2 separate regions of the Homo sapiens genome follow, and region 2 is linked to region 1. Evidence: fine-mapped expression QTL. A gene starts in region 1. The other region holds a variant in brackets. All regions are shown on one strand. Distances are between the middles of the regions.

Region 1 (2,906 bases):
AAGGCCGAGGAGGGCGGATCACAAGGTCAAGAGATCGAGACCATCCTGGATAACACGGTGAGACCCCGTTTCTACTAAAAATACAAAAAAAATTAGCTGGGCGTGGTGGCGGACGCCTGTAGTCCCAGCTACTCAGGAGGCTGAGGCAGGAGAATGGCGTGAACCTGGGAGGCGGAGCTTGCAGTGAGCCGAGATCGCGCCACTGCACTCCAGCCTGGGCAACACAGCAAGACTCCATCTCAAAAAAAGAAAAAAAAAGAGCGAGACTCCGTCTCATAAAAATAAAAATAAAAATAAATAAAAAATAGCAAAAGACTGAATAGGCACTTTATAAAAGAAGACATACAAATGGCCAATCAGCACATGAAACATGGTCAATATCATTGATCTCCAGACAAATGCAAATCAAATTGCAATGATGTGCCCACAACACCCATTAAATGGCCAACGCTAAAGACTGACAATATCCAACGTTGGCCATGCCATGGAATAACTGGAACCACCATACACTGATTTTGGAAATCTAGAATGGAAAAACCATTTAGAAAAAAATCGTTTGGCAGTTTCTTATAAGTTAAACACACACTGATATGATCGAACAACTCCACTCCCTAGTTACCCAAGATAAAGGAAAACTATCCACGCAAACTTACAGGAATGTTTACAGGAGCTAAAACAATGGGCAAAACTAGAAACCCACATGTATATCAAAAGAGAAAAATAAATCTGCTTTTTAAAAAAGATTGAAATATCTTGTATTTTAATACCCGAAAAAATTTTATTTCCCCCTAGACTGCCAATTCCAGCTGAGCAGGCTCTCTAACCATCTTATTTACTACCATACTCTCAATTTCTGGCACGGAGTAAGCGCGCAATAAATGTTTGGTGAATGAATGAAAGAATGCCCGCTTTCATACACTAATGGGTTTGTAGCCACCACCCCTCAGGCCTTTTACGCCCTCATTCCTTCCAGGTACAAACGCTATCTGGGCTAGGCCAAATGTGGCTCGCAGCGGGTCCGGGAGCGGGGCACCTACCGGCAGCTCCCGCAGCGGAGGCGCGTCCCCCGGGCGCCGAGGCAGCGCCCGCGGCTGGAGGGGCCCGGGGCGGGCGCCGAGCCCGAGGGATGCGCGCAGCGCGGGGTGCCCCGGGAGGCAGCGGCCGGGCACGCTGGGACCGACGGCGCGGGACGCCCCGACGCCGGGCAGCACTTACCCGCCGCACCGAGAGAGCTACGCGGCCCCGCGGCCCTGCAGGGCACAGGGCGGCCCCCTGCCCGGGGCTCTCGGTGGCGCACTGGGCGGCGGGGCGGGCCGAGGGCAGCGGGGGCGGGACAGGACAGACGAGAATCCCGCGGAGGTGAGGCCGGGGGCCGCCCCGCCCCCGAGGGCAGGCCCTGAGCCCCGGCCCCGCCTCGGCCGGCCCCGCCTCGGCCGGGGCGTGGGCTCCGGCTGCAGCTCCGGTCTGCTCTCTTGGCTCCGGAACCCCCGCGGGCGCTGGCTCCGTCTGCCAGGGTGAGGGGGCCGGGAAGGGGCGCGCGGGGGTCCCGGGTCTCGGAAATCGGGCGGGGACGGAACGGGCTCGGGCTGCGGGGCCTCCAGACTCAGTCGCACGCTCAGATTTCGGGATTTCTACCCCCGGCTGGGATCGCGTAACTTCCTCATTCCCGCCTGGACCCCTGCCCCCGGCCCGCCTGGCCTGGCGTGAGCCCCGTAGCCGCGCGCTCTCCGGACCACCCAGGGCCGCTTCCCCGCGCAGCTGCTGCGCCGCCCCAGGTCGGAGCCTTCCGGGCCTGGCTGGGTGTTCCCCGGGGCTCTGGTTACGGGACGGGGCGGGGGGCGGGGGGCGGGACTGGGATTGTGGATGAAGGACTAAGGTAGGGGATGGGGGCTCGAAGGGGTCGGTGGGGCGTTGCAAACTGGTCAGGCGTCATCCGCGGGCGGTCAGGAGGCCGTGGGGGAAGAGGAGGATCTGGAAGAGATGGAGGACCTGCGGGAGTTAGGATGGGGGGCGGGTTCTGCAGGACAGCTCGCCTCCCTGAGGCTTCCCAATGTTCCTAGGATGACGGCGACCCCTGAGAGCCTCTTCCCCACTGGGGACGAACTGGACTCCAGCCAGCTCCAGATGGAGTCCGATGAGGTGGACACCCTGAAGGAGGGAGAGGACCCAGGTACACAGGGAAGATGGATGGCCCTCAGGGAGGAGAGGCGTTCGGGAGCCAGGGGGCTGGGGCCTGTTGTGGTCTACACTCCTCGACTTTCTTTCCTCCCAGCCGACCGGATGCACCCGTTTCTGGCCATCTATGAGCTTCAGTCTCTGAAAGTGCACCCCTTGGTGTTCGCACCTGGGGTCCCTGTCACAGCCCAGGTGGTGGGCACCGAAAGATATACCAGCGGATCCAAGGTGGCCAGACTGGCCCCAGGGAGGGGGAAAGGGAGGGCGGCCCGGAATGGATCCAAGGTGGCTGGGCTGGCCCCAGGGAAGGGGCAAAAGGAGGGCTGGCCAGAGTGGGGAGGCGGGGACCCACGCAGGGGACATCCATTCAGTTCCTCATACCCCTAGGTGGGAACCTGCACTCTGTATTCTGTCCGCTTGACTCACGGCGACTTTTCCTGGACAACCAAGAAGAAATACCGTCATTTTCAGGAGCTGCATCGGGACCTCCTGAGACACAAAGTCTTGATGAGTCTGCTCCCTCTGGCTCGGTGAGGGCGACCGGACTGCTTCCTGTAGAGGGCAGGTGCTCCCCACCCTCCTTTCTGTCTGTCTCACCCCGGGGCCACAACCTTTCCTCCCTGCAACTCTGGCCACTGTGCTGCCTCCCCTGACCCCAGTTACCAGGAAACTTTCCCTGCTCAGCTTTCCCTGTCCATGGTTCTGTGCCAGCATCTCAGCTGGGCGGGATG
Region 2 (2,906 bases), 52 kb after region 1:
AGCTGGAACTATAGGCACGCACCACCATGCCCAGCTAATTTTTTGTATTTTTAGTAGAGATGGGGTTTCACCATGTTGCCCCGTATGGTCTCAAACTCCTGAGCTCAGGCAATCCGCCAGCCTTGGCATCCCAAAGTGCTGCGATTATAGGGGTGAGCCACCGCGCCCAGCCAAGATGCTCTTTCTTACCACACACACACCCTCCTATTTCTTTTCTTATGCACACACACAGACACACACACAGCCTTTAGCTACTCCTAATTGAAGGGTGCCTAAGACACCACCCTTCTGTCAGAATACTTGCCCCTACTTCCAAATCTCTGCCAGTACTGTATCCTTGTGGAACTTAACTTAAATTGTTGGGGAGACCCCATCTGTCCTTTGTCTCTCAGGCCCTTATCCCTTCCCCTGTGGTGGCTTCAGAATATCTCCTACAGATGGGGTTTAGGGTTAGTAATCTGGTGGTACTGGGGCTAAGGGATAGGTTTTAAAGCTCCATTTGCATAGCAGTCACTATTTTAACACTTAGATTGTTGGTGTTTTGGGGTGTCTTTAAGGGAGCTGATGAATTTATGGGAGGCTAAATATCCCCTCCCCCACTGGGTATAGCCACTGCCTTTGCCCCCCTCTTCCTCTCTGTGTGGGCCTTCTGGATTACAGGAAGAGCTCAGGAAAACAGGCCTATTGTTTTCATCTGGGAGGGGGGAGGGCCTCCCAGGCCAGCTCAGGCTCACTGTCCTTTGAACTGGTACCCGATAAACAGAGGCTCCAAGACGCTGGCAGCCTTGTTCTTCCAAGGCAAGGGAGTTATTTGGCTTGAGACTTTATTCTGTTCTGCCAGCTCTTGTTGGTTCCCTGTTTATTTTTTTTTAATTTAAATTTAATTTTTTTTTTTTTTTGAGACGAGGTCTTGCTCTGTTGCCCAGGCTGGAGTGCAGTGGTGCAGTCTCGGCTCACTGCAACCTCCGCCTCCCAGTCTCAAGTGATTCTCATGCCTTACCCTCCTGAGTAGCTGGGATTACAGGCATGCACTACCATGCCCAGCTAATTTTTGTATTTGTAATAGAGATGGGGTTTCACCATGTTGGCCAGACTTGGTTCCCTCTTTAGACCACAAGTTCCCATTCTCTTTCCCTAGTGTCCTATGAAATTCTCTTCTCCCGCTTCCGCATCTGTTTTTCTCTATCACAGGTTTCTCAGAATCTTTCTGGCTGCTGTATAGTCAGTCCTGGTATGGTTAGTAACAGCAGGAAGCCTGCCTTTTTGGAAGTACAAGGAGCTAGGAAAGGAGGGGTCTCTCCCAGACTAGAGAGGTCTTCTCCCCTAGCCTCACAGCTAGCTGA[C/T]TCTGCCTTGTCCTCCCAACACCCGGGATTCCCCCCGGCCCCTCCCAACACCAGGCACCCGGGGCAGCCCCACCTCCTGCCCTGTTTCCTGTCAGGGGTAGGATGGCACCTTGCCTGGGTCTGGGAACAGCACTGGCTCTAGCAGCAGGACCTGCCGGGGCATATCTGAGTGAATAATCATTGCTGGGCTCGAAGCACAGGAGAGACCAGTCCTTCCTTGTCTCCACTGGGCTGTTTAGTGCTTCTTTCCCAAGGACTTCCATCCCTTCCCCAGGCTTTATGGTTCCAGTTCTTCTACCATTCTGGAAGCTCCCTAGAATCTCCTGGAATGCTTAATGGACCTTTCCAGCACCGAAATTCAAGAATTATGACTCATCGGTCAGCAGAAAAGTGAGGATACCTTTTCCTAACCTACCTGCTTCCCCTGCAGTTTCCTCACAATCTTACTCTTTATATTTTAGCATATGTAACTTCTCAGGATGTTAATTCTGTTCTCTCTGTGTTGGTGTCTGAGCACCCAGAAGGTAGAGCCAGGGGCACTTATAAACCAGGAGCATTATTTGACAGGCACTTAAGAAAGACACTGGCTACGTAATCCCAGCACTTTGGGAGGCTGAGGCGGATGGATCACATGAGGTCAGGAGTTCGAGACCAGCCTGGCCAACATGGTGAAACCCTGTCTCTACTAAAAATACAAAAATTAGCTGGGTGTGGTTGCACACGCCTGTAATCCCAGCTACCTGGGAGGCTGAGGCAGGAGAATCGCTTGAACTTGGGAGGCGGAGGTTGCAGTGAGCCTAGATTTTGCCATTGCACTCCAGCCTGGGTGACAAGAGCGAAACTCCATCTCAAAAAAAAAAAAAAAAAAAAAAAAAAAGATGCTGGCTAATATTGATAATAACAGTTTGCATTTGCTAAAGTACTTAAAAAAAAAACCTTTACCCCTCAAAGGGTTTCATCTACATGCAAAACCAACACCGTAGGAACTACTTTCCGCATGCGGAGCCGGGTACAGAGGGAAGGGGCGCGTCCGGGAACTACTTGCCGCATGCGGAGCGGGGTACAGAGGGAAGGGGCGCGTCCGGGAACTACTGGCCCCATGCGGAGCGGGGTACAGGGGGAAGGGTCGCGTCCGGGAACTACTTGCCGCATGCGGAGCGGGGTACAGAGGGAAGGGGCATGTCGTTAGAGGAGCTACTGTTAGTGGAATGAGGACGGGTAGCCAGAGTTCTCATCTGCCAGCTCCAGGCCACTTCCAAGAAATGTGACCCCCAAGCCTCTGGTGCTTGCCTCCTTCTGCTCATTCAGTCGTCCACCTCTTTCATTCTGGATTCCACCATGAGTCCAGGCCTCTCCTGCATTTCTAGATTTCCACGTGCTGATTGTGAGGGACTGACGGGGGTTTCACCTTCTCTCCTTTTCCTGGCCCCACAGCCTTGGCTCACGCTTCCTAGGCTCTGAGTTTCAGTTCGTGTCCCAGCCTCCCAACCGGACAGCGTTCTGGAAACAGTTTATGCATGAACTCTTGCATTTTCTCTTGGGAAATAATCAAACCCTTTGTTT

The links.
Region 2: its variant is fine-mapped to the expression of PLD2 in whole blood (TOPMed, PIP above 0.99).

Annotation. Positions count from the first base shown.
Region 1 is chr17:4,805,712-4,808,617 of GRCh38, forward strand. PLD2 (phospholipase D2) reads left to right here and starts at 1,441. Exons shown (of 25, transcript NM_002663.5): 1 at 1,441-1,514; 2 at 2,061-2,170; 3 at 2,273-2,403; 4 at 2,563-2,705. The coding sequence starts at 2,062. It also overlaps a transcript of C17orf114 not described here. RefSeq lists a silencer at 992-1,781 and an enhancer at 2,177-2,906.
Region 2 is chr17:4,857,596-4,860,501 of GRCh38, forward strand. All of the region lies in intron 1 of MINK1 (misshapen like kinase 1), which reads left to right. Among named protein-coding and RNA genes, the nearest start is that of MINK1, 26 kb to the left of the region's middle. RefSeq lists a silencer at 2,259-2,553. The variant C/T (reference allele first, on the strand shown) is at 1,344.